Homo sapiens: one gene and its partners. The protein of the gene in region 1 interacts with the protein of each later gene in a biochemical or structural test. Each region holds a gene or a part of one and is shown in the gene's direction. Other genes may lie near its edges.

Evidence for each region.
Region 2: the proteins of ARHGEF11 (region 1) and GRIP1 interact in a test that uses a peptide from one of them, tested with the Homo sapiens proteins (one large-scale study listed by IntAct).
Region 3: the proteins of ARHGEF11 (region 1) and FKBP4 interact in a test that uses a peptide from one of them, tested with the Homo sapiens proteins (one large-scale study listed by IntAct).
Region 4: the proteins of ARHGEF11 (region 1) and SH2D3C interact in a test that uses a peptide from one of them, tested with the Homo sapiens proteins (one large-scale study listed by IntAct).
Region 5: the proteins of ARHGEF11 (region 1) and FAT3 interact in a test that uses a peptide from one of them, tested with the Homo sapiens proteins (one large-scale study listed by IntAct).
Region 6: the proteins of ARHGEF11 (region 1) and SMCHD1 interact in a test that uses a peptide from one of them, tested with the Homo sapiens proteins (one large-scale study listed by IntAct).
Region 7: the proteins of ARHGEF11 (region 1) and HTR2A interact in a test that uses a peptide from one of them, tested with the Homo sapiens proteins (one large-scale study listed by IntAct).

The regions. Positions count from the first base shown.
Region 1 is NC_000001.11:156,934,340-156,937,742, reverse strand, and holds the end of ARHGEF11 (rho guanine nucleotide exchange factor 11), read left to right. Parts: intron 1-246; coding exon 247-494; intron 495-737; coding exon 738-927; intron 928-1,498; exon of another isoform or gene 1,499-1,612; intron 1,613-1,684; coding exon 1,685-1,743; 3' UTR 1,744-2,903; downstream 2,904-3,403. UniProt on the Homo sapiens protein: May play a role in the regulation of RhoA GTPase by guanine nucleotide-binding alpha-12 (GNA12) and alpha-13 (GNA13). Acts as guanine nucleotide exchange factor (GEF) for RhoA GTPase and may act as GTPase-activating protein (GAP) for GNA12 and GNA13.
Region 2 is NC_000012.12:66,462,577-66,466,076, reverse strand, and holds part of GRIP1 (glutamate receptor-interacting protein 1), read left to right. Parts: intron 1-654; coding exon 655-802; intron 803-2,983; coding exon 2,984-3,153; intron 3,154-3,500. UniProt on the Homo sapiens protein: May play a role as a localized scaffold for the assembly of a multiprotein signaling complex and as mediator of the trafficking of its binding partners at specific subcellular location in neurons.
Region 3 is NC_000012.12:2,797,970-2,801,469, forward strand, and holds part of FKBP4 (peptidyl-prolyl cis-trans isomerase FKBP4), read left to right. Parts: intron 1-736; coding exon 737-857; intron 858-1,118; coding exon 1,119-1,275; intron 1,276-1,880; coding exon 1,881-1,971; intron 1,972-2,069; coding exon 2,070-2,153; intron 2,154-2,422; coding exon 2,423-2,608; intron 2,609-3,147; coding exon 3,148-3,387; intron 3,388-3,500. UniProt on the Homo sapiens protein: Immunophilin protein with PPIase and co-chaperone activities. Component of steroid receptors heterocomplexes through interaction with heat-shock protein 90 (HSP90).
Region 4 is NC_000009.12:127,751,167-127,754,666, reverse strand, and holds part of SH2D3C (SH2 domain-containing protein 3C), read left to right. Parts: intron 1-3,366; coding exon 3,367-3,495; intron 3,496-3,500. UniProt on the Homo sapiens protein: Acts as an adapter protein that mediates cell signaling pathways involved in cellular functions such as cell adhesion and migration, tissue organization, and the regulation of the immune response.
Region 5 is NC_000011.10:92,798,318-92,801,817, forward strand, and holds part of FAT3 (protocadherin Fat 3 isoform 1 precursor), read left to right. Parts: coding exon 1-3,500.
Region 6 is NC_000018.10:2,700,726-2,704,225, forward strand, and holds part of SMCHD1 (structural maintenance of chromosomes flexible hinge domain-containing protein 1), read left to right. Parts: intron 1-9; coding exon 10-193; intron 194-2,966; coding exon 2,967-3,161; intron 3,162-3,500. UniProt on the Homo sapiens protein: Non-canonical member of the structural maintenance of chromosomes (SMC) protein family that plays a key role in epigenetic silencing by regulating chromatin architecture.
Region 7 is NC_000013.11:46,834,554-46,838,053, reverse strand, and holds part of HTR2A (5-hydroxytryptamine receptor 2A), read left to right. Parts: intron 1-2,414; coding exon 2,415-3,217; 3' UTR 3,218-3,500. UniProt on the Homo sapiens protein: G-protein coupled receptor for 5-hydroxytryptamine (serotonin).

The DNA.
Region 1 (3,403 bases):
CTTGAGTTCATCGCTCAGCATCTCCCCCAGCTTGGGGCCAGACTGAGCAAGTGTCATCTAGAAGGTCTCGGGAGCAGGGCTTTTAGGGGGCTGGCAGACAGTGAGCAAGGCCCACGTTCTCTGAGTTTGTCTGGAGAGGACTGCCTGGCCTGCTCTGTCAGGTGGCTGGGGAATCCCACAGGAACGGGAGGATAGCTTCGACTTCTCTGTTTGCCTCCTGATCTCATTCTCTTACTGTGGGGACAGGGAACTGCTTTTATGTCAGCATGCCATCAGGACCCCCGGACTCAAGCACCGACCACTCAGAGGCACCCATGAGCCCCCCTCAGCCTGACAGCCTCCCTGCAGGGCAGACAGAGCCTCAGCCTCAGCTGCAGGGAGGCAACGATGATCCAAGACGCCCCAGCCGCTCTCCTCCAAGCCTGGCCCTCAGGGACGTGGGCATGATCTTCCATACCATTGAGCAGCTCACTCTCAAGCTCAACAGGCTCAAGGTGAGGGAAGCAGGGCTTGGGTCCCTGCAGGCCTTCAGTCCATCACCCCAAAACCATTCCCCATGAGTGAGATGTGTGTCTTCGCGGGAGCCCTAGATCCTGTCCTGGCCCAGGGATCTTCCCCCAGCCCGCCCAGCCACCCTTAAATCACACCCTCCTCCCCAAGGCCCAGCACAGACCCCTTCCCCAGGGGCCTTAGGAATAGAAGGACTCGAGCAGACATTCCCCCGCCGACTCTTCCAGGATATGGAGCTGGCCCACAGAGAGCTGCTCAAGTCCCTTGGGGGAGAGTCATCTGGTGGCACCACGCCTGTGGGCAGTTTCCACACAGAAGCAGCTAGATGGACAGATGGCTCCCTCTCACCTCCCGCTAAGGAGCCCCTAGCTTCTGACTCCAGGAACAGCCATGAACTGGGGCCCTGCCCTGAGGATGGTGAGTGAAGCCAGGTCCCTCTCGGTTCCTACCATTGGGGGAGAAGTCTGCCAACTCGTGAGGACACATCACTAAGCAGTGAGAGATGGTGGTTCTGAGAGTGGTTTCCCCTTGAGTGAAACGAGTTCATTCTCTCAGCTTCAGAGAGGGATCTTTTTAGGGAAGTCCCACAGAAGCTCCCTGGCAAAATGGGGAGCTTAGCACTGAGCCCTCTTTTTCCTTGTGCTATGGAGGTAACAAACCAGGAGGAGCCTGTTCTCACCTCTAAGACTTGTTCTTTTTTTAATTTTATATATATATATATATATATATATATATTTTTTTTTTTTTTTTTTCTATTTATTTGAGACAAGGGCTGGCCTGGCTATGTTGCCCAGGCTGGTCTCAAACTCCTGGGCCGAAGTGATCCACCCACCTCAGCCTCCAAAGCAGCTGGGATTGCAGGTGCACACCATGGTGTCGGCCTAAGACTCGTGCTGATTAAATGATTCAGAACCACACTGGGTGGGCCAGGGACACAGCTATGTCATAACTCAGGAAGACAAGGCACATACCTACCTGACCTAAGGGCTTTAGGCGCTGATGAAAGTGGAGTTCAGTAGACAGCCCTTTTCAAGCCCTACGAGAAACTGGGGTTTCTGGAGGAGAAGGAAGGTGATGAAGGATCTGTTCTCGTGAGCCTGAACTTTCTAGACAAAACATGTGGAAGCGGTCACCTCAGGCTGGCCAGTTCCTCACCTTCATCCTCCTCCCACAGGCTCTGACGCCCCCCTGGAAGACAGCACAGCAGACGCAGCCGCGTCACCAGGACCATAACCGTACAAACCACCAAATCCTCTGCGTCCCCACTCCTCCTTCAGGGACTGGCCTGAGACCGGGGCACAGGGTAGGGGGGATCCCAACACTCCTCCCTGTGGAGGAGGCAGTTAGGGAAACTAGGATCCAGCCAAGGCCCGGGGGGAGACCCGCATGTTGCTTGGTCTGCTCAAGTCGGAGTCAGGTTTCAGTGTCTTTTCCCTCCCTTAGCCCAACCCTCCAAGGCCTCATGTCTCCTAAGCATGCTGACTGCATCCGAAAGGCCCCCACTCACCATGGTCTGCCCTCACCCCACATATGTGTGTACACGCGCACGCCTGTATGTGCGCTGCCCTCAGACATGCAAGTGAAAGGAGGAGGCTTCTGTGTAAATGCACTTTCTTCCTCCCCTCTTTCTCCATAAGACCCCAGGCAGAGGTGGGTGCCTCCCCTCCCCTCTTTGTCACTTTGGTTTCCTATAAATATGTATGTATCGTATGTGCATCTTTGCTATTGTAAATAACTTTGACCTTTTTTGTTCCTGTTCCTGAAGTGCTGGAGGCAGTTATGGAAGGAGCTGCTTAGGGAAGAGGGGTTTCACTTGTATCTCCTTAGTTAACAACCCAGTTCCAGGATCGAGCCTAAAGCGGGAGCCAGGCCTGAGTGTTCCTGTCCCTGTGAGTGGGAAGGTCTTCTGGCTCCCCATCCCACCTGGCTCCAGAGCCTGCCCTCCACAGCTTGCTGCCAAGCTACTCCCTCCCTCCCTGGACTTCTCATCTTCACAAGATGGGGATCATGGGGGTTTCTTACCCCACCTATGTCCCCCTCTTCCCCACCCTGTCCCTGTAGAAAACCAGTGAAGCAGGTACGGAGCTGAGGACTGGGCCCCAGGAGGTGGGGACAGGGGTCTGAATGCCGAGTCCCTGAATTCACCCAGGACCATCCAAGGGGCCACCGCAGCATTGGCCCCATCACCACGTCCTCACCCAACTCTCCCTGATGAATAGAATATACACACTGTGCTAGGTGTATATATACATATATATATATATAAATATATATATAATATATAAAATATAGATATGGAAATGACTGTTCTGCTGTTAAGATAATGTATACTCTTTTATTTTCTTCCTTTCATGGTTAAGATTTTTTTTTTAAGAAAAGTTAAATATCCTTCAGTGGTGGTGTGTGTGTTTCTTGGAATCGCTGTGATAAAAGGTACGGTGTTTGTTCCCTGTAAGACTGGTTAGGATTGGATAGTGGGAACCAGAGGGAGCCCTCTCACCCCCAGACCCAGATCTTGCCTGTTCCCTCCCAGAGCTTCAGCTGTGCACTCACTGAACTAGGGACTGGGCAAACTTAAGTTGTACAACCCCCATGGAGAAAACATGACAAGACACTGAACTCAGTTACACACACACAGATATATATATAGATACATATATATACACACATATATAGATATACACACACACACACATATATATACACATATATGTGTATATAAAGGAGCAGTGGACCCAGAGTCAAGAGGTCTCATGAGCTGCCCTCAATGAGCTTGAAGACTTTAAAAGCCAAATCTAAGTGGGAGGGTTGCCTCAGGCCTGGCCAGTTCATCACTGTCATCATCCATCCACATCCTCCCACAGACGCAGCCACATCACCAAGACTGTAACCA
Region 2 (3,500 bases), on another chromosome or scaffold:
TATATGAAGTTAAGCTTTACAAATTCAACTTAGTGTAACATTCCTACTACTTGGCTAGAGACATCATCCATCCATCCATTCTTCTGATTATCTATCTACCCATCCATTCATCCTCCCATCCCTCTTGTCATTCTTTTATTTATCCACCCATCCATCCTTCTTTTCTTTCTTCCTCCCTTCCTCCCTTCCTTTCTTTCTTCTTTCCTTCCTTTCTTTTTTATATCCATCCTTTCATCCATTCATTCATCCATCCGTCTATTTATTCCTGGTAGGTGCTAAGATATTTATTGAATTAAGTAATTAATTTAAAAAACCTTTACTGAGAGACCTAGTATATGCTCGGCATTGTGCCAAGCACTGTGGAGGGGATAAAGATACATAAGATATTATCCCAAGTGACATGAAGCTTAAAATCTCATTGAAGAGATGAACATTACACATACATTAACACAATACAAGCTGAATGGAACAGGTGTGTTAAGAGGTGCCCTATGAATTTATTATTGGCTGTGGGGATATTATATGGAGGGAAATCTAAGTTTCAGTGATAAAATTAACAGGCTAACACCAAACTGAATATTCTTCATCTCTTTCTTTTGTCTCTTTGCTTATTTGTTTTATTTGTTTTGTTTTCTAAAATTTGTTCTTTGACAGACTCTGTGGCAACAGCATCCGGGCCACTACTAGTCGAAGTTGCCAAAACTCCTGGTGCCAGCCTTGGGGTTGCCCTAACTACCTCGATGTGCTGTAACAAACAAGTCATTGTCATAGACAAAATCAAATCTGCAAGTATTGCAGACAGGTAAGTATTGTAGAAAGTGCCTACTTTTCCGCCAGGCGCAGTGGCTCACGCCTGTAATCCCAACACTTTGGGAGGCCGAGGCGGGTGAATCACCTGAGGTCAGGAGTTCGAGACCAGCTTGGCCAACATGGTGAAACCCCATCTCTACTAAAAATACAAGAAATTAGCCAGTCATGGTGGCAGGTGCCTGTAATCCCAGCTACTCGGGAGGCTGAGGCATGAGAATCACTTAAACTCGCGAGGCAGAGGTTGCAGTGAGCTGAACCATTGCACTCCAGCCTGGGCAACAAGAGTGAAACTCCATCTCAAAAAAAAAAAAAGAAAGAAAGAAAGAAAGAAAGTGCCCCTTTACAAAATTGCATGTGTGCAATTTTAAATATATATACATACATATGTACACACACTTGTAATACACATATACACATGCATATACACATACACACACACACACACACAGTTCTCTTGCCAGTTTATACAGGTTTCACACACAGAAGCAAGTTACTGTTACAGGGCTTAAAAATTCACCTATGTGTCAGCCACCCCATGATGTCACTTCACGTCATCCAGATGTTTGGTGTGGCCTTTAGCAATAGAAAAAAAAATCAAGCAACTAAGCAAGTTTTCTTACTGTGTCCTAGGGCACTAGCCTGTTCTTAATGTAGGGTAGCTGAGTAGATCTTTCTTAAACCCCATGCAGAGCAGTGATGGGTTTTCCTGAATTGTTGACAATTAAATCCTGCTACCATAAAATCTGATTTCTTTGTTTCTTAAATAAATAAAACAATACTTTTTAAAATATTTTTTACAATACTTTTAAAAAGTCCTATACTCTCATAGCATGTTAATCTTAGGATTTTACAACCTTCGAGGGTGTCTTAAAACATCATTCGCTTCAATGCCACAATAAAAATGAAATTTCATGTTTCTAATTAATATTTTATACTCGTAAGGTAAAAGGGGAAGATAAAAAAAGACTACCTTTCCATCTAATTAATTATTTTACAGCTCCTGGTAAGAAAAACCTCATCTCCCATAGCTAAAGCACTCCAAGTGCAAAAAATGTGGAATTATGTTTTTAGTTGGAAGATATGACTTGAAATGCTTTTGTCTTGAGACGTAGACTATTCACACTGGGAATTTATAGATATACTGCACCTGAATGACCAGTCTCCCCTGTATGTTTCCAGCCCTCTTCTCCACGTGCCCCTCAACCTGCCTTTCCACCTCCAGCCATGGTGCAGTGAACTGCAGCAACCCCCCGTAGTGGTCAGTCTACATCTCCATTGTGGTCTTACCCAACATTCAGTCCTTATCAGTGACAGCCATTGATCCAGGGGTGTTGTGCAGTTCAATGGCACAGGATGCTTTAATTTTCTCCCTCTGTTTTTTCCCATTCCACAGGGGGTAACCAGTTTAAGGAGCTGTTCACTTGACTGGTATGTGGGGATGCTGACGACTGCGCTAGCTTTTCTTAACTCATCCAGTAGCCAGCTCTTGAGTTCAGCAAGATGTAGCAGCTAGCCCCTTCCCTGCCCCCATCTTTCCCCTTGACTCACCATGCAGGCCTGGTTTTATTACTCACTTGACTCCTGCATAATTTCTACCATTATCAAGAGCTTTTATACTAATACATGTTCAACTCCAGAATAACATAATAATAAAGAACTGGTGATCTTGGAGTTTGTGTGAGGATTCCAAGGAAGTATTACTGAAATCTCCCCAAGTTATTCTTCTTTACACATAAAATAGACCCTATTCCAATTCTGAGAGTCATGTTTGAGATTCTGAAGATTTACCCACTCATGTTTATAGATAGAAAAGCCTAGAACAAAAAAACACAGACAAAAGTCCAGGGGAAACATTTTCCTGTTTTTCCCTTTCCTCTTGCTCGCTTTCCCTCAACTTTCCACACAAGCACTCCAAAATAAGATTTTTTTTTTAAAGAAAGACAAGAGAAAACATTTCGTTGAATTTTTCTCTATTTTCCACAAGGTTTTACTTCCTTGTTCATATTCAAGGTACTTAAAATTTGGCAGATGGTGTTTCCTATAACACTCAAACTTTTCTTTTCTTTTATTTTAAGTAAATGAAAAACTGTGAAATTTTAACTATGAAGGACATGAAAGTCAGATTCCAAAGAGGAAGGCACTGCCTCTTACCGAGTATTTCTCCTTTCCGTAGATGTGGCGCATTGCATGTGGGAGATCACATCCTCTCCATCGATGGAACCAGCATGGAGTACTGTACACTTGCAGAAGCAACCCAGTTCCTGGCCAACACCACTGACCAGGTCAAGCTTGAGATCCTTCCCCATCATCAGACCCGGCTGGCCCTAAAGGGGCCCGACCATGGTGAGATGGTCCACCTGGATCAAGCTCTTTCTCTGGCCCTCACAGTGTTGCTCCCTCTAGCAGAGTTAGACAGCAGAAAGACACTGGGTCTCATTCTGCCTTTTTTTTTTTTTTTTTTTTTTGAGATGGAGTCTCACTCTGTCCCCCAGACTGGAATGCAGTAGCATGATCTCGGTTGACTCCAACCTCTGCCTCCTGGGTTCAAGCCATTCTCCTACCTCAGCCTCCCGAGTAGCTGGGATTACAGGTGACCGCCACCATGCCCAGCTAATTTTTGTATTTTTAATAGAGACAGGGTTTCACCATGTTGGTCAGACTCATCATTTCTTTTCAAAACAAGGTTATGT
Region 3 (3,500 bases), on another chromosome or scaffold:
TAGCCAAGGCTGAGGGTCTGGCCTTATGGGAGGAGAAATGCAGAGGGCTCTGCTGCTGCTAGTAATGGAAGTAATAGAAGCTTCGGGTGGGAAGAGGCAGGCACAAGCCCCTCTCCAGACTCAAAGCATGGTCAGGGTTAAGGCATCTTTATCTCCAGAGCGGTACCCAGAAGAATACTGAAAGGAGTCGGGATGTCAGAAACTATGTCCCGTTATAAATGGCAGTACAGAATATTGGTGCTCTAGAGACCAGAAGAGGGAGCAGTAGCTCCCCTGTGGGTCAAGGGCTGAGAAAAGGCTTCACTGAGGAGATAGAACTTGACATTGTTCAATCTGAAAATGGTTGAGCCAATCCGTGGGCCCTTGAATACTGAGAAACTGCTGAGAGATGTTGGGTAATCATTTCTAATACCTACCAGGTTGGGCTTATCAGGTAGTGTGAATTAGGATTATCTGGGACGCGTCCTGATATGTCCGTGTTAGTAGAGCAGGTAGCAAATAGATTGCTCTCCTCAGCTTAACTGAAATCTATGTAGTCTGCCCACCTCTACCAAAGTTGAGATTAGGGCAGCTCCCAAGAACTGAAAAAAAGTGCCACTCTACCCAACTCCTTGTGACTGCCCTTGTGGTCAGATCCGGCCTGGCAGTTAGTAGGGACTCTCTCGGATGAGAAAGATTGTGTTTCACTGCCCATGAGTTAGCATGGGAAGGAATTGTGTCACATCTTGTCCCACAGGTGGAGTTGTTTGAGTTTAAGGGAGAAGATCTGACGGAAGAGGAAGATGGCGGAATCATTCGCAGAATACAGACTCGCGGTGAAGGCTATGCTAAGCCCAATGAGGGTGCTATCGTGGAGGGTGAGACAGTACAGTCTGGGCTTTCAATTCTCATTCTGATATTTAGGCCTTGTGTGGCTTTGGGCAAGACACTTCCGTTCTCCGAGCCTATCTTCTTGTCCATAAAATGAGGGGTTGGACCATATTCTCTTCATATCACTCCAGATTTGAGAACACAGGAGAATCTTGGGATGATGGGGGTGATGCAGGGAGGCTGATGGCATCCTTCCTCAGTCACCTGCCCTCTTACAACTCTGGTACACTGCCTCTCTTTCATGCCAGTTGCACTGGAAGGGTACTACAAGGACAAGCTCTTTGACCAGCGGGAGCTCCGCTTTGAGATTGGCGAGGGGGAGAACCTGGATCTGCCTTATGGTCTGGAGAGGGCCATTCAGCGCATGGAGAAAGGAGAACATTCCATCGTGTACCTCAAGCCCAGGTGAGGGGTGGGCACTTCGTAGGGTAGGCAGGCAGGCAAACCAAGATCAAAGATATAAAATGAATTGTAGAACCAGCTGTTTGTATCCTTTTTAACTCTGGCCACACCAAACATACACCATTATGATATCCTCAGTGTACTTAGAAGTATGGCCCAATTGTCTACATCTCCTTGGATCTAAGCCCAGTCTTTTCAGTCATAGTTGCTACAGATTCTCTCCTCTGCCATCAAGATTTTCCTCTCCCATTAATTCATTTCAGTCATTACTGAAACAGCTACTACATGCCAGGCACTGCTGAAAATTCCTATAGGGCTTCAGAGACTAATAGAACATTGTTTCTGCCTTCTAATTCTAGCTCATTGTTTAGTGAGGTGCTATTTAAATTAGTAATCACACTGCTGCCTGGCTGTAAGTTATTAGAAGGGTATGAAGGATGCTGAGGGACCATCTGACAGTGTGAAGAGGCCAGGGAAGATTTGCCAAACATTTGAACCAAGTCTCAAGGGATGGGAAGGTACTTTCCAGGAAATGGACAGGAAGCCTTTTCAGCCTGGAGCAGGTTAAGTGTTGCCAAGATGATACATAGTGTTTTTCACCCCTCCAGCTATGCTTTTGGCAGTGTTGGGAAGGAAAAGTTCCAAATCCCACCAAATGCTGAGCTGAAATATGAATTACACCTCAAGAGTTTTGAAAAGGTAAGTTTGCTCAGGGTCTTCCCATCTAAAGTCAAGTTCCACCCTGTACGTGACTCTGGGGTAGCTGACAACTTTGTTTCTCTCCTGGGGTGTGGCAGGCCAAGGAGTCTTGGGAGATGAATTCAGAAGAGAAGCTGGAACAGAGCACCATAGTGAAAGAGCGGGGCACTGTGTACTTCAAGGTGAGCCAACAGTCATTGTCCTAAGGACACTCCCAGGAAGAGTTGCTCTGAGCCTCCCCTTCCCTTGGTGACTGAGATCATTTTCTGCCAAGAAGTGGACAGGTTGGCACCTGCCATCTTCACTTCATATATGTGAGCTTGCTGGCCTTGCCAGTGGGAAGGGTGGGAGCAGGAACCTCTTGTGGCCATGTGTCACTGATGTCTGCAGGGTATAAGAGCCTAGTACCACTGAAACTGTGCCAGGTGCCTGAGCCTCTCTCCCATTCCAGGAAGGTAAATACAAGCAAGCTTTACTACAGTATAAGAAGATCGTGTCTTGGCTGGAATATGAGTCTAGTTTTTCCAATGAGGAAGCACAGAAAGCACAGGCCCTTCGACTGGCCTCTCACCTCAACCTGGCCATGTGTCATCTGAAACTACAGGCCTTCTCTGCTGCCATTGAAAGCTGTAACAAGGTGAGGCCCCCTCAGAGGTCATGGAAGCAGCATTCACAGGCAGAGTTGGGTGAGCTGCCAGCATGTCTGAAACTTCCCCTTGGTGACTAGGGCAGGGATAGCAGGGTGGATCAGTGGGAGCTCTGAGGTTACAGACCAAAGGCACGGATGCAAGTATTCATAGCAAGAACCTTAGCTTTGGTGGGAAGCAGTTGGCAAGAAGGAGGAGGACACGGAATGGGAAGAATCACATAAAGAGTTTTCTTCCACCTTGGTTCTTAGCCTCTCCGCTTACCTACTTGCTTTATTCTAAAGTGAATGTTAATGTCTGAAGTCTTTATTTCATCCAAAGACCTGCTGTCTTCCCTCTCTGCCTGTTGGATTAAATGAGGTCCCTGGATTGTTCCATTTAATGCCTCAGGCCTTGTTCTTCCTGGGGTGCAGCCAGCCACTTGCATTCCTCCTCATCCTCCTGAGGGGTACCTTTGGAACCCAGTCTAGGCCAGATGAGCTACAAGCCCTGAGCTCCCACAATGTGGCTTCCTCTCTGCATTCTTTAGGCCCTAGAACTGGACAGCAACAACGAGAAGGGCCTCTTCCGCCGGGGAGAGGCCCACCTGGCCGTGAATGACTTTGAACTGGCACGGGCTGATTTCCAGAAGGTCCTGCAGCTCTACCCCAACAACAAAGCCGCCAAGACCCAGCTGGCTGTGTGCCAGCAGCGGATCCGAAGGCAGCTTGCCCGGGAGAAGAAGCTCTATGCCAATATGTTTGAGAGGCTGGCTGAGGAGGAGAACAAGGTGAGGATTGGGGTGGGGAACAGTTGGAATAGCATCCCTCCACTTAACCTGGCTACTGTGGGCTCTTTGTGCCTTTGGTTGTCTGTGCCAATCCCGGAAACCAGAAGTTGCCT
Region 4 (3,500 bases), on another chromosome or scaffold:
GAGTGAGGAGCAGGAAACGCGGGGGATGCTTCGGATGCCAGGGTTGGGGCCAGAGCGCCCGCCACCCTCCCGCCCTCTAGGTGGGCTTGGACATGCCTGGGGCGCGGGTCTCTCCCAGCCCAGCTGGCCGGGCAGTGCAGGACGGCGCCGCGGCGGTGAGAGGGTTAAACGGAAGGGGGTGGAGGGGAGGACCCGGACCCCGCCTCTCTGCGGAGCATCCTTTGGGGATGGCTTTGCTTGGGGTTGGGACGCCGAGGGGAGCTGGAGGGGATGCTGGGCTCGGGCTGGCGGGAAGGGGTTAAGACCCTGTCCGGGGGTCTCCGCGCTCCTGCCCCCTGAGCCCCCTGGGAGATGCCAGGCGCGTCGGCTCTTCGCTCCCCCAGGCTCACACACGCTCGCGGAGCCCGCCTGAAGGACTGCCCCGCCGGCGGCGGAGCGCAGCATCCCCGCACCGGCCAATCAGGCGCGCGCAGGCCGGGAGGCGGTGAGATCATCTCTGGCCAATAGCAGGGCGCCGAGCGCAGGGATGCTGCATTCGCACCCCAGCACCCCCAACTCTAGGGAACTGGGGGCTCCCAGGTCGAGGTGAGATCAAGGCACAGGGACCCTAGGATTCCTCACCCTCAGGTGTGTGGGAGGACCAAGTTGGTCCCCCCAAACTCTCCGTGACCAGTGATTAAGCTGGAAAAGGGGAGCCCAGTCTCCCAGCCCCTTTAACGGATGAGGCTGCCCAGGCCCAGAGAGGGGAAGTGACTGGCTCAAGGTCACACAGTGGCAGCCTTGGGGCGGTTCTTCAACATCCAGCCTCCTCCCTCCTTTGCCCACGTCCCTCTAGCTCCAGCTGTGGAACTGGGGGAAGGTCTCAATCGCATGCCCTTTGTCAAGGAGGACGCCAGAAGGCTGAGGTCTTGGTTCCCTTTTTCCCTGTGACGCCCACTCTCCCCTTTCCAGGGTTTGGTGTGATATGAGGAAAGAGGACTAGCCTGGTGTGAGCACCGCAGAGTGAGAGGGAGAGAGACCAGGGACCCCCAGAAGTAGGGGACCCCTTGGAGAAGTGTAGGTGTCTGAGAAGGCCCAGATCCTAGCCCAGCCCTGGGCCTCTCTGCCCTTCGGGGGCATCGGTTTCTACCACGGCCGGAGGATGTGCAGAATTCCCACTCCCAGGCCCCGCCTTTCTCCTGAGCACCTGTGCAAACCGCCCACTCCCACCATCTGTCCCCAGAGCCCTGCAGGCTCCTCAAGGTCCAAATTTTCATGGGTCCACCACCAAGCTGCTCCTGCCCCAGCCTTGCCCACTCAGAGCATGTCCCAATCATCCTTCTAGGATCTCGGCCAGGAGTCCTCTCTGACCCCTCCGCCCTGCTCCCCCACATGAATCAATGGCCATCTAAACTCCCTTTCCCCCACTCCTTCTGCCCACGCCTTATCTGCCCTGCCACTGCCTGGAAAACCCTAGGCTGCTCTCCATAAGTGGACTAAACCTGCCCCAACACTTCCAAACCCCTCCATGGCTCTGCTGTGGCCTCCAGATAAACCCCAGCTCCCTGAGGCAGCCGTGCCACACCTGCCCCTGCCCCCACAGCCCCTTGGAAGCTTCTTATTCATCTCCCCTCCCTCCCCTTGGCTCTGCCCGTAGGACCCTGACTTTGCCGCTCTCTCCCCAGAAGCTCTTCCCTGTCCACCTGTCCACCTGCCCTCTCCACCCTGGTGCTTTTGCTTGGCTCACCCAGTCCTTCAGACCTCAGCAGAAACACCACCTTTTCAGGGAAGTGATTCCTGACTCTGCCCCCTGACTAGTTTGGTGGTGCACCATCTCTGTGCATCTCGGGACATTCAGGAAACCTGGAATTGATTGTCAGTGTCTGCAAGGCCTCCCCCAGGGCAGAGGCCACCTTGGGTCCTCAGCCCTGGCACAGGACCAGGATAGGGACCTAGTCAATGTTGAATGGAATCAGAGATTCTAGATATCTCTGACACTGGGAATCATGGTGTCTTGGGAGCAATGCAGACTAGGCTAAACCCAGGCAGTATGGGAGCAGAGGGGTGAGGGATGTAGCCACAGAATTAGGAGGCGAGATCTGTGGATAGTCTGAGGAGGCAGGGAGTGGACTGGAGGACCTTCGGACTCTCAGGAGCGAGGGGCCCCAGGGAGAGACTCACCTGGGATGAAGGCCCTTTACTGCCCTCCCTCATCTGTCCTGCCTTCTGGCCAGCGCTGGGGTCTGTCTGTCTTGGAGTAGCCATCTTTGGGGCCTGGAGGTGGGGGAAGGAGAGGAAGAACCATCCCATGTCCTCGCAGTGATGAGGATGTCCATGTGCTAGTAGTACTCTGGAGTGCTGTCTCTTTTCATCTTCGCAGTGAGGTGAGGCAGGTTCTGTCACTGTACCCATTTTAATGAGGAAGAAATTGAGGCCCAGAGAGCTCACAAGGCACAGCCAGGATTGGGCTGGGCTCTGGTGGGCGTACACCTGGCATTAAGGGCTTCCTTTCCTCTTCCCTTAGGGCCCCTGGGATCCATCAGCCTCCAACTTCAGGCCACAGTAATCAAGAAACCAGGAGTTTCTGGGCCAGGTGGGAGGGTGGAGTACTGGACATTATCTCCCTCAGTGGCCTTGGGCTTCCCTGCTGGGCCATGGTCTCCCCATCTGGGTGAGGATTGCTGAGGATTTCAAGGGAGAAATGGCCTTGGAAATTGTAAGGGGCAATGCAGATGTCTGTTTGGGGTCCCCGTGTCCCTGTTTATAGTCCCTTCCCCACCCTTGCATTGTAGAATGCACCATCCCAGAACGTATCCTTGTCCAACCAGTTCTGTGGTTTTGTTCATAGCTTTTCCTGCAGTTACCTGCTGCCTTACCTCCAAGATTCACCTGTAGAAATCCCCCTCCAACACTTCAAGAACAGTTTGGTGCCCTTGGTATATAATGAGTGTTTTCTTACTGCCATCTCCTCCAGGAAGGCTTCCGAGACCCCTCTGTCGTGCCCAGGCTTAATCCCGCTTGTAAAAGCCACCCGGCTCTTTGCCGCTGTCCAGCGCTGTGGTGCTGACCGCACTCTACTCAGAGGCTCCTGTTGCTTTTGCCTCTCCTCAGACTAGGCACTGCCTTGAGGGCCGGGCTTGGTTTATATATCACTGCATCCACCCCTGGCATATAGCACAGGGCCTGGAATGCAGCTGGCATTGTTTTGTGGAAGGAATTGAGATTTCTTTACTCTTTCTGGGACCCATGGGAAAGGGTCTGGCACCTGTGCCTTAGTGTTCCCAGAGTCCCAGGATAGGAGGAGTTCATCCATGGTAGAATGAAGTTGGGAGGGAAAGAAGAAGGAGACTTTAAGTTGGATGCCAACTCTTGCTGTTTTCTACCCAGTTCTCCAAGGAGAAGTACATCCTGGACTCATCGCCAGAGAAACTCCACAAGGAATTGGAGGAGGAGCTCAAACTCAGCAGCACGGATCTCCGCAGCCATGCCTGGTACCATGGCCGCATCCCCCGAGAGGTGAG
Region 5 (3,500 bases), on another chromosome or scaffold:
TTTCTCTTTTCTCAATACTCAGGCAGCCTAAGTGAGGCTGCCCCAATTAATAGCATTGTCAGGAGCTTGGATAACAGCCCACTGGTGATTCGAGCCACAGATGCTGACAGCAACCGGAATGCTCTGCTTGTGTATCAGATTGTGGAGTCAACAGCAAAAAAGTTTTTCACGGTGGACTCCAGTACAGGTGCAATCAGAACAATTGCCAACCTGGACCATGAAACCATTGCCCATTTCCATTTTCATGTGCATGTGAGAGACAGTGGTAGCCCCCAACTGACTGCAGAGAGTCCCGTTGAAGTCAACATTGAGGTGACAGATGTGAATGATAACCCACCTGTTTTTACTCAGGCTGTGTTTGAGACTATCTTACTTCTACCTACCTATGTTGGAGTGGAGGTTCTGAAAGTTAGTGCCACAGATCCTGACTCTGAGGTACCCCCTGAACTGACATACAGCCTAATGGAAGGCAGTTTGGATCATTTTTTAATTGACTCAAACAGTGGAGTACTTACCATAAAAAACAACAACCTCTCCAAGGATCACTACATGCTGATAGTTAAGGTGTCTGATGGAAAGTTCTACAGTACCTCCATGGTCACCATCATGGTTAAAGAAGCCATGGACAGCGGCCTCCACTTTACACAAAGCTTCTATTCCACCTCAATCTCAGAGAACAACACTAACATAACCAAAGTTGCTATTGTCAATGCAGTTGGAAATCGCCTTAATGAGCCCTTAAAATACAGCATCTTAAACCCAGGAAATAAGTTCAAGATAAAATCTACCTCAGGGGTCATTCAGACGACTGGAGTCCCCTTTGACCGTGAAGAACAAGAGTTATATGAGCTGGTGGTAGAAGCCAGCCGTGAGCTGGACCATCTGCGTGTGGCCAGAGTGGTGGTCAGGGTTAACATTGAAGACATAAATGACAATTCTCCAGTCTTTGTGGGCCTCCCATACTATGCTGCTGTTCAAGTGGATGCGGAACCCGGGACTCTGATTTATCAGGTGACAGCCATTGACAAAGATAAAGGTCCAAATGGAGAAGTGACCTATGTCCTGCAGGATGACTATGGCCACTTTGAAATTAACCCTAATTCAGGGAATGTTATTTTAAAGGAAGCATTCAACTCTGACTTGTCCAACATTGAGTATGGAGTCACCATCCTAGCCAAGGATGGCGGAAAACCTTCTTTGTCTACATCTGTGGAGCTTCCCATCACTATTGTCAACAAAGCAATGCCTGTGTTTGATAAGCCCTTTTATACAGCATCTGTCAATGAAGACATCAGAATGAACACACCCATCCTAAGCATCAATGCCACCAGTCCAGAAGGCCAAGGCATCATATATATCATTATCGATGGGGACCCTTTTAAACAGTTTAACATTGACTTTGACACTGGGGTCCTGAAAGTTGTTAGCCCTTTGGATTATGAAGTTACATCTGCTTACAAGCTGACAATAAGAGCCAGCGACGCCCTTACTGGTGCTAGGGCTGAAGTCACTGTTGACTTGCTAGTTAATGATGTAAATGACAACCCCCCTATTTTCGATCAGCCTACATACAATACAACACTATCAGAAGCATCTCTTATTGGGACACCTGTTTTACAAGTTGTCTCTATTGATGCAGACTCAGAAAACAATAAAATGGTACATTATCAGATTGTCCAGGATACCTACAATAGCACAGATTATTTTCACATAGATAGCTCAAGTGGCTTAATCCTGACAGCACGAATGCTGGACCATGAGTTAGTACAACACTGCACTTTGAAAGTCAGATCAATAGATAGTGGCTTCCCATCACTGAGCAGTGAGGTTCTCGTTCATATCTACATCTCTGATGTAAATGACAACCCTCCAGTTTTTAATCAGCTCATTTATGAGTCATATGTGAGTGAATTAGCCCCCCGGGGCCATTTTGTAACCTGTGTACAAGCCTCTGATGCAGACAGCTCTGATTTTGACCGGTTGGAATATAGCATTTTATCTGGGAATGACCGGACGAGCTTTCTGATGGACAGCAAGAGTGGAGTTATCACATTGTCCAACCATCGGAAGCAGCGGATGGAGCCTCTGTACAGTCTCAATGTGTCTGTCTCTGATGGGTTGTTCACCAGCACTGCACAGGTGCATATTAGGGTACTTGGGGCTAACTTGTACAGCCCTGCCTTTTCACAAAGCACATACGTAGCTGAGGTGAGAGAGAACGTGGCTGCAGGAACAAAGGTAATTCATGTTCGAGCCACAGATGGTGATCCAGGGACTTATGGGCAGATCAGCTATGCCATCATCAATGACTTTGCCAAGGATCGATTCCTCATAGACAGCAATGGGCAGGTCATCACCACAGAAAGGCTAGACCGGGAAAACCCTCTAGAAGGGGATGTTAGTATTTTTGTGAGGGCCCTTGATGGTGGAGGGAGAACAACTTTCTGCACTGTGAGAGTGATTGTTGTGGATGAAAATGACAATGCTCCCCAGTTCATGACAGTGGAATATAGAGCCAGTGTCAGGGCAGATGTTGGAAGGGGCCACTTGGTCACTCAAGTTCAAGCCATAGATCCCGATGATGGAGCAAATTCAAGGATTACTTATTCCCTCTATAGCGAGGCCTCTGTTTCAGTGGCCGACCTCCTGGAAATCGATCCTGACAATGGCTGGATGGTCACAAAGGGTAATTTTAACCAGCTGAAAAATACAGTGCTTTCGTTCTTTGTCAAAGCAGTAGATGGGGGCATCCCAGTAAAGCACTCCCTCATTCCTGTCTATATCCACGTCTTGCCCCCTGAAACGTTCTTGCCATCATTCACCCAGTCTCAGTATTCCTTTACCATTGCAGAAGATACAGCCATTGGGAGTACAGTGGACACCCTGAGGATTTTGCCCAGTCAGAATGTCTGGTTCAGCACAGTTAATGGGGAACGGCCAGAAAATAACAAAGGGGGCATATTCGTCATAGAACAGGAAACAGGCACTATTAAGCTTGACAAACGCCTTGACCGTGAAACCAGCCCAGCTTTCCACTTTAAAGTAGCAGCCACTATACCCCTGGACAAAGTAGACATTGTGTTTACTGTGGATGTAGATATCAAGGTATTGGATTTGAATGACAACAAGCCAGTCTTTGAAACTTCAAGCTATGACACCATTATAATGGAAGGGATGCCTGTTGGCACCAAACTCACACAAGTGAGAGCTATTGATATGGACTGGGGAGCCAATGGACAAGTCACTTACTCCCTCCACTCGGATTCCCAGCCCGAAAAGGTAATGGAAGCATTCAATATTGACAGCAACACGGGCTGGATCAGTACCTTGAAGGACCTAGATCACGAGACAGACCCCACATTCACCTTCTCTGTGGTGGCCTCTGACCTTGGAGAGGCATTCTCTCTTTCCTCCACGGCCTTGGTCTCTGTCAGAGTGACAGATATAAATGACAATGCACCAGTCTTCGCGCAGGAAGTGTACCGAGGGAATGTGAAGGA
Region 6 (3,500 bases), on another chromosome or scaffold:
CTGTTCAAGCTTTGACTGGTGTACTCCTCCTAAGAAGAGAGGGCTTGCACCAATTGAATGCTACAATAGGATATCTGGTGCATTATTCACTAATGACAAATTCCAGGTCAGCACAAATAAATTGACGTTTATGGATCTTGAGCTAAAATTGAAAGATAAGAACACCCTTTTTACAAGGATTTTAAATGGACAGGTATGATTTTTAAATATAAAGTTGTGAATATTTGCAAATGTTTTATTTTTAAGTAAAAGAAGACACTAGCAGTGTAGGTTTTTATTGATATTTTGCATCAAAAGACTATGATGTATAAATTTTTTTATGAGCAGTCAAGTGTTCACATTACTAAAAAATTTAAAGCTAATTTTTTAGTAATGACTAAACCTACCTAGTAAAGACTAGGTTTGGATAGAATTTACATATCTTCATTAGTTTTTTTTGTTTTTTTTTTTTTAAGACAGGAGTTTCACTCTGTTTCCCAGGCTGGATTGCAGTGGCTCAATCTCAGCTCACTGCAACCTCTGCCTCCCAGGTTCAAGCTATTCTCCCGCCTCAGCCTCCCAAATAACTGGGACTACAGGTGCGTGCCACCACGCCTGGCTAATTTTTGTATTTTTAGTAGAGATGGGGTTTCACCATGTTGGCCTGGCTGGTCTCGAACTCCTGACCTCAGGTGATCGACTTGCCTTGGTCTCCCAAAATGTTGGGATTACAGGCATGAGCCATCGCACCCAGCCAAGATCTTAATATCTAGCCCTTGACATAGTAGAAGCCACAGAAGCATCTTAATGAGAACATGTATGAACAATTGTATTTGCTTTAAGGGCTATATTTGTATATTAATAACCTAGTTGTGCAATTTTTAGCTAGTCTTGAGGGTAAAAATGGGGTAAAACTGTGAAGTACTTTGAGCTAAAAGGTGATTTGAGATTGATCAGTATTAAAATACATGTATTGATTAATACAACAAGAATGATTTCACTTTGAAATTTGTTACAAAGTTGAGTGAAACTAGTATACTAGTGTACTTGTATTCTGTGAACAGACCTCAGAGACTTTTGATACTACTCTTTCAGTAGTTTAATGTTGAATTGCCAAGAAATAGATGATTTTATTATCAATTTATTGCTGGGCAATAAATACAGTGCATAGTACATAGTATTTGTAGTCAGTCAGTCCTGTAAGATGTTGAAATTAATTTTGCTCTTATAAAGCTTGTGAATCATAGAAGATTAGGACACTTTTAAGAATTATACACCGAGAAAGACCTTATCAAAATGAGTTACTACTCCTTTATAATACACTTAGAATTCATTTATAATATGGTGTTAGTTATCCAACATTTATTGAGCAGTGGGTGTTTTCAAAAGCTATCCAGAATAAGTTAATTCTATTCCTTTGTTACACTGTACTTTTAAAATATATATTTTCTAATTTTGAAACATTCAAGCTGCGCATAATGGTTCACACCTGTAATCTTGGCTACTTGAGAGGCTGAGGCAGGAGGATGGCTTGAGGCCAGGAGTTCAAGACCAGCGTGTGCAATACAGTGAGACACCTTCTGTATTTAAAAAAAAAAAAAAAAGAAGGAAATGTTCAAATACACAGAAAAGTTGAAAGAATATTATAAAGTGAATATCTGCATACTTTTCCCCTAGGTTACCTGTCACCTTGACATGCCTTCTGAATTGTACTTTGACTGTTACTGAGTGTCTGGAATTAATGCATTTGGTAATTTGTTTGGTTGATAGTGAATCCATCCTGAGAGTTTTAGAAGGGTAGTTTAACATTTTGGTTGTCAGACTTTCTGGTTCCTAGTTACTAATTTAATCTCCATGTCAGCTGGCAAACTGACAACAATGATTTGCTGATTTGGGAAAGAGTTGGTACCTAGTTATAGGAGTAAGTGTGGCAGCAATTTCCCAGAAACTGTATACCATATTGGACCTGTGAGTCTTTACCATGTATATATATTTCCTTTTTCATTCATATAACTTTAAAAAAATCAAATTTATTAATAACTAAGATAGTATCCTTCTTGACAGCAAGCATCAAAAACTTAGGCTGAAATTATTTTTAATTTTGCCTTACTTTCCTTTGGAAATGGTATATTATGGTATAAGGTACGTAAGAAGGAATGGAGTTCTGTAACTTTACAGACTGTCCTCTGCGAAAGCATGTAATGGGGAGATTGTCTTACCTCCTCATTGCCCTAGAGGCAGGCATCAAACAAGTGTATAGCACCTTATGCTTGAATACAGATTTCTGTATTCTCTCCCAACAGGGTGAAGAATGGTTGGCAAAAACACATCTTCTTAAGTATTATTAGAAAACACTTCAGTTTTATGAGTTTATTTTTTGGATAGGCTCTATATATAAAAGAGAAAATTAAAAAGAAAAGTACATTTTGCATAGCAGTGTTTCTCAACCTTTTTTCGTTATCACCCTCATAAGGAGTCTTTCTTGGCATCTTTTTCTCAATTGTTTTCCCCAATGAAATTTTACTACTGCAGATTTACCATCTATCTGTTTGTATATTGTATTCACGTTTATAAAGTACTTGATACACAATGAGATTTTTATCGTCCCATTGAGAATGTGGTTTACAGTTAGAAGGCCTCCACTCATCCCTTTTGTGGAGCTAGCTAGTTCTCCTCCCAGGCAGTAAGGGTTCATCAGTTTTTAGTGTATCCTAGGAATTAAAGGCGGAAAGGAAGGTTTTATTGTTGATATTGACCAGGGATACCTTGGTTCTAAGAATAATATCAAATTTTTCTTCTTTGGTAATGCATTTGTTTGAAATATCCTAAATGTGTACAGAGGAAGGATCCAGCAGAATATTTAATTTTTTATTAGGTTTTCTGAATTGGAGTATATGAAAGGAAAAAAATAAAATGAATGACAAATGTTTATGGTTATATTTGTTTGCTAGTAGCTATATTTCATAAAACATTTTAAAATTCTACAGGAACAGCGAATGAAAATTGACAGAGAATTTGCTTTGTGGCTGAAGGACTGTCATGAGAAGTATGATAAACAAATAAAATTTACACTTTTTAAGGGAGTAATTACACGTCCTGATCTTCCTTCTAAAAAGCAAGGTCCCTGGGCAACATATGCAGCAATAGAATGGGATGGAAAGATATACAAAGCAGGACAGCTGGTAGGTTTAACTTATTGTCACTTTTTTCTTATAATTTTTAATTTAATTTAAAACACATATGCAGAATCACATGTATAGAAAATAAGCTATTTTTAAAAATTTCTTTTTTTCCCATTCTCACATTTCATGAAGAACATTTATTCAGACTCTTCACAGGCCTGTTTGACATCAGTGTCTTCCATCATCTCTAAGGAAATTTAACTTATTTTTAGATTCAATTTTTAGTAGAAGTTGAGACTAAATTAGATGTATTAAAATTTAACAACAGTAACAACAAATAATGCAAATATTGGCTCCTCAGGAGCTAGGTAAGAATGAAAAGGACAAACTGATTTTAAA
Region 7 (3,500 bases), on another chromosome or scaffold:
GGTCTCAGAGGATGTTCTCCTTGGAGGCACAGCTCATCAATCTCTTCTTGAATGTTGCAAACAATGGGCCAGGAACAGAGAGGGATGGAGGAAATGAAGAGTCATTAGCCACAATAAGTGTCCTTATGAACAGCTCTGATGTCATTTATCTCCACCTTCCAAGAATCCTGGATGGGCTTGCATAGGCAAGTGACAAATATTGTTAATTAAGTCTTTGAAGATAATGGCAAATGTCACTAAGAAAGATTTGTGTTGAATATTACATCAACTCAGCGTTCTTTCCTGGCCACGATGGCCAATGTGAGGTGACATGAGGTTAGGACAGTCATGCCTGTGCTTGGATGAAGCGGAACTCTGTTCTGAGTATGCAGAAGTTAGATTAGAGATTCTCCAAAAACCTTTTTCCAGATGGATGGCAAGAGTGAGGCAGTGGCCCCCAATTCTGGAATAAACCGGTGTTCTTGGCTGGTGTGAGACCATGTATTAGACTCTAAAGACGGTCAGAAGCAGTAACCACAACACTCTTTGTTCTACAATTCTGAGTGTGCTGATAATATGGGCAGGAGTTAGAAGGGAACTATTTTTCTGACTTTTTCTCCCAGGCTGTCCCTGCAATATCTACCATTTCATGAAAGAAACAATCTTAAACTAAGTTATACAGAGTACTTGATTCATGTTTCCTCTCTTTTTTATCATCCTGATTCTACCTTTATGGCAGAGAGAATAAGCCATCTCATGATTGCCTTGGACCAACCATCCCAGGCCAGTAGAGAAAGATACACCTATTTCCCCAGGAGCAGAGAGGTTGTCCATGGTGGGGGCTGGGTGGTGAAACTGCACAACATGGCCAGTTGAATCTTCCTTTAAAAAGGTCCTATCATCAAGTGGGGCACATAGCATGATTAGAGGCCAGGGGTTGCCTTTATTCACTTCTGCTTCCTCCTCTGCCTAATCCCTGTACCTGAGGGAGCCTTACAGATCCCCCAAATCTGGGTGATGGAGCAATGAACCATATAGGCCCATGTTCCCCTGTATTATCTCATCCTATACCTACTTTTTATATTTGTCAATAAAAAGTCTATGGCTGTCTTGTTTTTTGCAATCCATCCTTATGAATGCTCTACTACTAAAAACATAGAACAACCTTTATGGGACAATTGGAAATTTGAACACTAACTCTACATTTAATATTAAGGAAATATTAAACTTCTATTTAGGAGTGAGAATGGTATTGTGAAAATATTAGGTTTGTCTAAGAGTGCATGGCTTTTAGATCTACGTAATAAATATTTTCAGATTGAATGACATGATGTCTAGGATTTGCTTCATAATAACATGGGAGGGATGGCAGCCAGAGGACATATGGATGAAACAAGATTGGGCTTGAGCTGATAATCTTTGAAGCTGGGTGACGAGTTCACTGTACTGGGTTTGGTTTTTGGTTTGTTAGTTGTGTGTATGTTAAAAATGTCCCATAATAAAAGCTTTTTTAAAAAGAATTAAAATTGGTTATTTTAAATTAATATTAGAAAATTGTATTTCTCAAAAATATTTTATGTGCAATTATCATGATTTATAATGTTAAATGGAATAGGAAGATCTAAAACATATAAGGTACAAAGTACTGCATGTAAAGTACTGCATATACACATTTGCTTTTATATGTACATGTAAGTGGAAGAAGAAATGATGCAAATGTAAATTATGGTTGCCCCTGACTGGTGAGAATACATATTATTTTTCTTTATTCATTGTTACATTTTTGTACCTCCCAAATTTTCTAGAGAGAAAATAAACTATATTTAAAATTTTATAGTTATTTTTATATATAAGCCATGCTTGTGACATATTATTAGATTTTTTAAAAAAGATACAGAACTATTTGTGAAAAAGAACCTCAATTCTGTTTTAAAATGTGTGCACATGGTAAGTGTGTGAATGTATCTAAAATGAACAGCATCAAAAAAAGAAACAAATCTATATTCTAGATTTTCATAGACAAAAATAAATAAATATATAAATAAATAAAATGAACAGCATCAGTTGTTAATTGTGGCTATCTCTAGATGGTGACGTTATTGGACAATTTTTAGTTTATTTGCCTCTCTGTGTGTTTCTTCAATTAATAAGTATAATATTATAATCAGAAAAATGTGGCATAAAAAATAAAGCTAGATTTATTATACTTCTTTATAAGGGTTAGCTATATAGGGCAATATAACATACAAGTAACTACATAATATATACTTACAAAACACATATGTAAGTCCAAAGGAATTTTAAATTCTCAAAGTATGTTAAGCTTTTAAACGATGATATAAAATCTTTTCAATAGCCAATATTATGTGATGATGCTCTTGCCTTCATATACTTAATTCCTTAATAATCATGTTTCATTTTCTGTTCAACTCCAGGTATATCCATGCCAATACCAGTCTTTGGGCTACAGGACGATTCGAAGGTCTTTAAGGAGGGGAGTTGCTTACTCGCCGATGATAACTTTGTCCTGATCGGCTCTTTTGTGTCATTTTTCATTCCCTTAACCATCATGGTGATCACCTACTTTCTAACTATCAAGTCACTCCAGAAAGAAGCTACTTTGTGTGTAAGTGATCTTGGCACACGGGCCAAATTAGCTTCTTTCAGCTTCCTCCCTCAGAGTTCTTTGTCTTCAGAAAAGCTCTTCCAGCGGTCGATCCATAGGGAGCCAGGGTCCTACACAGGCAGGAGGACTATGCAGTCCATCAGCAATGAGCAAAAGGCATGCAAGGTGCTGGGCATCGTCTTCTTCCTGTTTGTGGTGATGTGGTGCCCTTTCTTCATCACAAACATCATGGCCGTCATCTGCAAAGAGTCCTGCAATGAGGATGTCATTGGGGCCCTGCTCAATGTGTTTGTTTGGATCGGTTATCTCTCTTCAGCAGTCAACCCACTAGTCTACACACTGTTCAACAAGACCTATAGGTCAGCCTTTTCACGGTATATTCAGTGTCAGTACAAGGAAAACAAAAAACCATTGCAGTTAATTTTAGTGAACACAATACCGGCTTTGGCCTACAAGTCTAGCCAACTTCAAATGGGACAAAAAAAGAATTCAAAGCAAGATGCCAAGACAACAGATAATGACTGCTCAATGGTTGCTCTAGGAAAGCAGCATTCTGAAGAGGCTTCTAAAGACAATAGCGACGGAGTGAATGAAAAGGTGAGCTGTGTGTGATAGGCTAGTTGCCGTGGCAACTGTGGAAGGCACACTGAGCAAGTTTTCACCTATCTGGAAAAAAAAAAATATGAGATTGGAAAAAATTAGACAAGTCTAGTGGAACCAACGATCATATCTGTATGCCTCATTTTATTCTGTCAATGAAAAGCGGGGTTCAATGCTACAAAATGTGTGCTTGGAAAATGTTCTGACAGCATTTCAGCTGTGAGCTTTCTGATACTTATTTATAACATTGTAAATGATATGTCTTTAAAATGATTCACTTTTATTGTATAATTAT